3 separate regions of the Homo sapiens genome follow, and regions 2 and 3 are each linked to region 1. The links come from fine-mapping of genetic effects on gene expression. A gene starts in region 1. Each other region holds a variant in brackets. All regions are shown on one strand. Distances are between the middles of the regions.

Region 1 (2,759 bases):
AAATGGAAGGCAGGTCTGACTACTCATGTCCTTTGAGAGGAAGTCGCCTGGGCCCCCTCTGGGACCTCTGACCAAGGGGATCCATTTAATGTGCTGTTCCAGCATAAACTGTCATTGGAAAAAAGAGAAATCTCGTCCTCAAACCATGGACAGCAAATTGGACAGGGACTAGTAGCCCTGGAATTGGAATTTCCTGGGTGACAGACTGTCCGGGGAAAAAGGTCTTGGAGAGAAGCTTCTTGCATGAGTCCAAGGAAACTCACATACCTAGGGTTGCTAGATTTAGCAGATTTATTTTATCTGGCAACCCTACACATACCTCAAGCTTGCTCTTGACTACATGGATATCTGTCTCACACTCCCAGAACCCCACTCACAGATACCCCACACCATGGACCACACACCAACTCCAACCCAGCTCAACTCTGCTAGTATCTAAACAAGTGGAGAGAAAAACAGTGTTGGCGTCATCCTACTCCATTTCACCTTCTGAATGTCCTCATTTCTTTTTTTTCTTTTCTTTTTTTTTTTTTTTTTTTTTTTTGACTGAGTTTCGCTCTTGTTGCCCCCCTGCTGGAGTAAAATGGCCTGATCTCAGCAGCTCACCACAACCTCAGCCTCCCAGGTTCAAATGATTCTCCTGCCTCAGCCTCCCAAATAGCTGGGATTACAGGCAGGCACCAACATGCCCGGCTAATTTTGTGTTTTTAGTAGAGAGGAGGTTTCTCCATGTTGGTCAGGCTGGTCTCAAACTCCCTACCTCAGGTGATCCACCCGCCTCGGCCTCCCAAAGTGCTGGGACTACAGGCGTGAGCCACCCTGCCCGGCCTGAATGTCCTCGTTTCTAAAACAGCAAATGGGAACCAGTAGCTTCCTTCCTTGCCAGCACTCCCCTGGCTCCCCAGGCTTTGGTCAGGGTGAGACTAGCCAGGGCACTTGCTGCCCAAATTTCCTGCTTCAGAGAAGTTCTACCAAGCAGCTACAGCAGCCAGCCCTTGCCTCTGCCTGGCCTTGCTGCACGTTCACTGCTACTGAGACCTACACTGGGGAAGGGGAGTACAGAATCCCCAGCTTCTGCTCTGCAGGGTTGGGGAGGGAGAATCCAGACCCTTCACATACATACTTTTTACAGGAGCGGAAACTGAGGTCCAGGAGATCATGTTACTTGTCAGGCTTTTGAGGGGCGCTAAGCTGGGTTGGACCTACGTGTCCGGGTTCCTAGCCCAGAACCCCTCTGTTTATCCAAATAGCTGTTTCTCTAACCGAGCTCCTCTCTGTATAGAGGGATTTCTAGTAGCCTCTCCTCCCTTCCAAGGTTCTGGGCCAGTTTGTTTTCAACAGTGTCAGGAGTAAGTGCACTGGGGACTGGGAGAAGGGCCACCGCGGGATTCGGAATTTATTTCGTTTTCTTTGCTTCTTCTGTGACCCTTACTTCTTTCGCCTACCGGCTCAGCCTGTTCGGCGTCTTGCAGCAGTGCCTGCGATCCCGCGTGAGTCCGTCGCTCCCTCCGCGAAAACCTGGACTCTTTCCCAGAAGCCTTGGGCTCCAGCACCATGCCTGCTGCAGCCGCCAAAGAGCGGGAAGCCACAGGCTCTGCGGGTCTTGGTTACAGCGTCTCTGGTCGTGCCGGGCCTCCTTCTGCATCTGTTCCACGGCCCGGCCATCTCCCTCGTGCAGCCCAGAACAATTGGGAGGAAGCGTTGGCGGGCGGAGGGGGATGCCTGTTGGGCTTTTCCACTAGTTACTGAGTGTTTTTTGCGAAGAGTACGTTGCTATCAGTGGCGTCCGGGTCGTCTCTCCCTCTCTTCCTTTTGGTCCCCATAAATGAGCTGTTCTCGGCTCTGGGAAAGAAAAGCCCTCCAGCGATTATGCGGATCTAATTAAGTCAATCAGGAAACTGCCGGAGAGCGGCACTGGCTTGAAGCGGAGTTTGTCCTGAGGCACAGCGGAACGATTGCACGCGGCCCTTTTCAGCGGTTCGAGCTCGGCCAGCGCCGGGCTGCAAACGGAAGCCTGAGCTGGGCTTGGGGAACTACGCCCGCAGATTTCTCTAATTTTATTCACAAAACTGGACACCCTCAGGGAAAGCGGCAAAGCCGGCGCGAGCCTCCTTCCCACTCTGGACCTAGCTGCAGCTCCAAAGCGAGATAGCTGTCTAGCCTCAGCCGGTACAGCTCCCGGCCCCTTTCTCCACCCGGATCTTCGGCTGCTCAGAAGCGATCAGCTCCCTTAGCCCAGGTGGGAGGCGGGAGACTCCAGATCCTGTGACCCGCGGAGGCAGACCTCAGACATGTTCCCCATGCACAGAAATGACTGGGGCTCCAGTGTGTGCACCTTCAACTCTGAAGCCCACCTGCCCACTTCAGGCGCTGGCGCGGAGATAACCACCACGCGTCTGCCGGGCAAAGTTCGAGAGTGAATTTACATCTTCTCTTTCCGCTACTCCTGGCCACTGTCCCCTCCCAGCCCCATCTCCCCCGCCCCCAACCCTGGACTATGTGGTAGGGGACTCGCTTAAGCACCCAAGTACTGCGCGGTTGTTGAGACCAAGGCGAGCTGCGGAGCCTGTGGGCTGTTGTTCGTGGGAAGAGGGTTGCGACCTCAGGAGAGACCGAAAACAGCGCCACTTGAAACCCGCCGGTCCTGAAGATCACAGAGTTCCCGGAGTGGTAGGGAAGGCTCCACGCTCTTGAGAGCAGAGGCGGCCAGGGGCAGTGGGGGACGCTTCCAGGTATGTGGGAAGGAGAACTTCATGTCT
Region 2 (2,759 bases), 91 kb after region 1:
CTAGAGTTTCTATGAAAAAAAAAAACTGAGACACTAAGGGCATCATAAACTGAGAACGTTTGAGAGTCTTTAAGCTAAGATCTGAAGGATGACTAAGGCATTTCAAAAACCATGTAGTAGAATGAAGGCCAGGCGTGGTGGCTCACGCCTGTAATCCCAGCACTTTGGGAGGCTGAAGCAGGCGGATCACCTGAGGTCAGGAGTTTGAGACCAGCCTGAGCAACATGGTGAAACCCCATCTCTGCTAAAAATATAATAAATTAGCCGGGCATGGTGGTGCACGCTTGTAATCCCAGCTACTCAGGAGGCTGAGGCAGGAGAATCGCGTGAACCCAGGAGGCAAAGGTTGCAATGTGCCAATATCGCACCACTGCACTCCAGCCTGAGCAACAGAGCCAGAGTCCTTGTAAAAATAAATAAATAAATAAATGAAAAACGTGTAGTGAAATGAGAGGGAAAAGACAGGGTCCCCACCCTTAAAGACATTACACTCTAGTTAGGGAGGCAAAACTAAAAGATAAACAATTTTGAAATAATTTACAGTTAGGCCGGGCATGGTGGTTCACACCTGTAATCCCAGCACTGTGGAAGGTGAGGCAGGCAGATCACCTGAGGTCAGGAGTTCGAGACCAGCCTGGCCAACATGGTAAAACCCCATCTCTACTAAAAATACAAAAATTAGCCAGGTATGGTGGTGTGTGCCTGTAATCCCAGCTACTTGGGAGGCTGAGGCAGGAGAATCGCTTGAACCCGGGAAGTGGAGGTTGCAGTGAGCCAAGACTGTGCTACTGCATTCCAGCCTGGGTGACAGAGTGAGACTCCATCTCAAAAAAAAAAAAAGAAAAAATAATAATAATTTACAGTTGAACTTTAATACCTGCAAAGTTCTTTCATATCTGTTTGCATTCAAGGGAGTGTTTTTTGAGTCAGCCTCACGTATGTCGGTTTACCCTCTCACACTTTACTCAGAATTGAATCCTTCAGTAACCCTATACAAGGATAACTGCTCTAAGCGTTTTTCCATCTCCCAACTGCTTCTTTCCCACTGTCCTTCAAAATTGAGCTCATACACATCACCTCCTCTGGGAAGCCCTCCCTGACTCATTAAATTGACATTTAGATGTCCCTTCCCTAAACGTCCCTAAATGGGATATTTGGTATATTTATATCATAGGATTTATCATTCTATCCTGTAGTCATCACCAATTAATTTCCTTGTTTCCTCACTACATTGTAAACTTTTGGCAGCAGGGTCTGTCGTCTTTTTTTTTTTTTTAAGACATGGTCTTGCTCTGTTGCACAGGCTGAAGCGCAGTGGCGTGATCATGTCTTATTGCAGCCTTGAATTCTCTTTCTCAGGTGATTCTCTCACCTCAGCCTCTCAAGTAACTGGGACCACAGGCACGCACCACCAGGCCCAGCTAATTTTTTGTAGAGATGGGCTTTTTTTTTTTTTTGAGACGGAGTCTCTCTCTGTCATCCAGGCTGGAGTGCAGTGGCGCGATCTCGGCTCACCGCAAGCTCCGCCTCCTGGGTTCACGCCATGCTCCTGCCTCAGCCTCCTGAGTAGCTGGACTACAGGCGCCCGCCACCATGCAGGGATGGGCTTTTGATGTTTCCCAGGCTGGTCTTGAACTCCTTGGCTCAAGTAATTC[T/A]TGCACCCTGGCTTCCCAAAGTGCTGGGATTACAGGCATGAGCCACTGCAACTGGCCAATCTGCGTCTTCTGACTCAACTCAACAACCAATATCACAGTGCCTGGCTCTCAAAAAATGTTTTCTGAATAAATGACAAGTACAGGGAAGTTTTGTGGGTTTTTTTGAGACTTTTTTTTTTTTGAGACGGAGTCTCACTCTGTTGCCCAGGCTGGAGTGCAATGGTGTGGTCTTGGCTCACTACGACGTCCTCCTCCCAGGTTCAAGCGATTCTCCTACCTCAGCCTCCGGAGTAGCTGGGATTACAGCCTCCTGATCCACCCGCCTTGGCTCCCAAAATGCTGGGATTACAGGTGTGAGCCACTGCGCCCGGCCAGGAAAATATTTTTTAAAAATACACAGAGGGCCGGGCATTGTGGCTCATGCCTGTAATCCCAGCACTTTGGGAGGCCAAGGCAGGTGGATCACTTGAGGTCTGGAGTTCAAGACCAGCCTGACCAACATGGTGAAACCTCATCTCTACTAAAAATACAAAAATTAACTGGGTGTGGTGGCATGTGCCTGTATTCTCAGCTACTCGGGAAGTGGAGGCACAAGAATTGCTTGAATCCGGGAGGCGGAGGTTGCAGTGAGCAGAGATCACGCCATTGCACTCTAGCCTGGGCGACAGAGCAAGATTCCGTTTCAAAAAAAAAAAAAAAATACAAATGGTTAATTATGCCATTTCACTTTAAAAAAAGAATTGCCGGGCGCAGTGGCTTATGCCTGTAATCCTAGCACTTTGGGAGGCTGAGGCGGGTGAATCACAAAGCCAGGAGTTTGAGACCAACCTGGCCAACATGGTGAAACCCCATCTCTACTAAAAATACAAAAATTAGCTGGGCATGGTGGCAAGTGCCTGTAATCCCAGCTACTTGGGAGGCTGAGGCAGGAGAATTTCTTGAACCCGGGAGGCAGAAGCTGCAGTGAGCTGAGATGGCACCATTGCACTCCAGGCTGGGCAACAGAGTGAGACCCTGTCTCAAAAAAAAAAAAAAAAAAGAAAAAAGAGAAAAAGGAAAAGATTCTCAAAAATCTCAGAAAATAGATTAACAAATTTGTAAAAA
Region 3 (2,759 bases), 28 kb before region 1:
CAATAATAATAATTAATAATAATACCTTTTATTGTGCAGTTACCACATGCGTTGTTCTAAGCAAGTATTACTTCCATTTTCTCAATAATAATAATTAATAATAATAATAACTTTTATTACACAGTTACCACGTGCATTGTTCCAAGCAAGCATTAGCTCATGTAACTGTCCTAACCCCTGGCAGGTAGATGTTGTTACTCTGGCTTTGTAGACAAAGCAAGGGAGGCACTGAGAGGTTAAATGGCTTGCTCAAGATCACAGAGCTGGCAGGCTGTGGAGCCAGGACTTGAACCCAGGCTGTGCAGCTCTGGCAGTGGGACCAGGTGCTTCTAGCTCTGGCATCCAGGGCCTCATCTTCCAACCCTGAAGAGGAGTCTAGTGGGCACAGATCCCTACCCCCAGAGTAGCCAAGACTCTGCAGAAAGAAAGCACACACCCTCCTCCAGAAACTCCATAGAGCCTTCCACAGGCCATAGCAGATGCTTCGTGGAAATTCTTCTTTCTTTTTTTCCCCAGCTTCTAATGGTTGCCACAGCTTAGAAAACTCAAAGATCCTCAACCCTTCCCTGTCTGCCCTCCAGCCCTGCCAGTTCTGAACTTTATACCTTCAGCTTTTTTCTGGCTCTTGACAAGTGGAAAAAAAATCATTCTTAGGATTGGTGTGCGTGTGTGTGTGTGTCCCTATTCATAGAAAAAAAATGACATTTGAGGCCCCTCCCCCAACTCCCAGTTTCATAACACCAGAAGAGACAAGGAGCTGGACAGAAACTCCAGGAGGTGGCCACAGACTCCTGCCCACTTACCCCCATCCCACCATGGGCCACACAGCAAATCCTCTGTGGCCCAATCCTTTCCCTTTCCTTTCTGCAGTGAATTACTGTTGTGGCCTCAACTCCAACCTGGAAAATGTTGCATTCCTGCCCACCTTCCAACCTCATCGCCCACAACTCCCTGGCACAAACCCTTTTTTCCAGACAAACCAGGCTCCTCATTGATCTCAACACATGTTTCATGCTTTCCTACCTCTGTGCTTTTGCCCACATGACTTCTTCTCCAGGAATGCCCTCCCTTCTCCTCTTCCTTTCTCCAAATCCTACCATCCTTCAAGGCTCTGCTGGAGACAAGCACCTGACTGAGAACTTACTATGTGGTTGTAGATTCTGGAGATACAGG[G/C]GTGAGTGGATAGGGTCCCTGCTCTCAAAATAGTAATTAAAAAGTAATTACCCAATTGCAAGGAGTTCGAAGCCTTCCCTGTTACCCCTTTGCTCACTTTCCCTCTGCCTGAGTGCCTGCTCCATCACTTCCTACAATGCCTGCACAGAGCGGCGCTCAATAACCATCCATCTCTCCCTTCCACTACCGTCTCCACTTGGGAAATTCTCTTAAATCTTTAAGTCCTTCAACCAATGCCCATCTCCTTCAGAGAACCTTCCATAATCCCCTTGTCCTCTAAACTACCCCTCATTGGGCTAGGTGGGCTTCTCTGTGGGCAGCCCTGTGCTGAATCTCATTATTTCACTTTCCACAGTGGGTGTCATCACCAACCCCACAGCCTCAGGGCCTCTGACCTGCAATTTTCCTTCCACTTGTCCCAGTGTGCCATACAAGGATCATCATGTCTGACACGTGCCATGCCACAGCAAATCTGGGGGCACTTCAGTGGACCGCCATGATGTGTACAGGGTACTTCTGACATTGTAAAAGGCTACTGGTCTGGAAAGTCTCAGTGTTAACTGCACAGATCTAGATGTTTGTGTTGAGCAGTGTCATTCTTATGGTTAGAGCCAGATCATTTTTAACTTTATTTTGCTCAAAATTACTATATTGGATGGTCTTTTGATATTGTTTTAGTAGTTGTTGAATGGGTTGCTTGACAGACAAAACATGGCATGGCAAACAGGTACAGCTTCAACCAGCAAAATTCATCTCTCCATCTACTGCCCCAAAAATTGTTCAGGAATTGGAACAATGAAAAGTCTTCATTAATGACTATTGGTCAAAAATAATCTGGTAAGATACAGAAACTCAGTGTGGAAAGGGGCCAAATCAGTGTAAGACGGTGTTCTTTGTAGAGTACGTTTAAAAGGAAGTGAGAGCTAAATCAAACTCTGTAATTTCAACAAGCACATTATCACAAAGATAATGAGAAGCCAGTCAAAGATGCAATCATGTCTCAAAACTCTTGGACAAATGATTGGAATTTCCTGAGGTGTTAGCTCCTTCGGTGAGGTTACTGCTTGCCCTAATAGGATGGGCAGGTCTCAGTGCTGATGGGGAGTAGGAAAGCCTTTGCTATTGAGCAGAGTAGAGGTATAGTTTAGAAGACGTAATGTGATCTTGCTCCAGCTCACCACACTCTCATATGATGATCCCATGACAGGCAGCTCCAGGGGCAGCCATCTGCCATGCTGAGGATGATCTCCACTCAGCCAATTGCTTTAGAAGCCACTGTCCCAGGTGGCCCAGCACTTGGTCCCACATCAGAAAGACAGGCATCATGGTGTGAGGACTTACCTGTCTGTAGAGGGTCCTCACACCTCTCTGGGGTGTGCTTAGAGCTACATGCAGAATGTTCAAGGCTTATCCAACAGACCTGAAACCATTGTCTCAGATGTCATGAAGGAGTAGAAAGTACCTGAAAGTCACAGCTTACTCTAAGATGGAAGAACTCCCTCCTGCTGCTTCCAGGCACACACCTGTCCAAGGAACCATCACTACAGGCAGGACTTTACATGAGTGAATTCAACATCCAAAAGCTA

The links. PIP is the estimated chance that this variant, and not a neighbour inherited with it, causes the effect. A credible set is the group of variants that fine-mapping cannot tell apart.
Region 2: its variant is the best candidate, but not a certain one, in a credible set for the expression of FOXD2-AS1 in whole blood (INTERVAL, PIP 0.63).
Region 3: its variant is the best candidate, but not a certain one, in a credible set for the expression of FOXD2-AS1 in whole blood (TOPMed, PIP 0.61).

What each region holds. Positions count from the first base shown.
Region 1 is chr1:47,433,336-47,436,094 of GRCh38, reverse strand. FOXD2-AS1 (FOXD2 adjacent opposite strand RNA 1) reads left to right here and starts at 1,454. Exons shown (of 1, transcript NR_026878.1): 1 at 1,454-2,759. All of the region lies in intron 1 of LINC01389 (long intergenic non-protein coding RNA 1389), which reads left to right. RefSeq lists an enhancer at 1,454-1,969.
Region 2 is chr1:47,342,585-47,345,343 of GRCh38, reverse strand. The region is part of intron 1 of CMPK1 (cytidine/uridine monophosphate kinase 1); the gene reads right to left. Among named protein-coding and RNA genes, the nearest start is that of CMPK1, 10 kb to the right of the region's middle. The variant T/A (reference allele first, on the strand shown) is at 1,656.
Region 3 is chr1:47,461,740-47,464,498 of GRCh38, reverse strand. No RefSeq gene overlaps it. Among named protein-coding and RNA genes, the nearest start is that of FOXD2, 25 kb to the right of the region's middle. The variant G/C (reference allele first, on the strand shown) is at 1,174.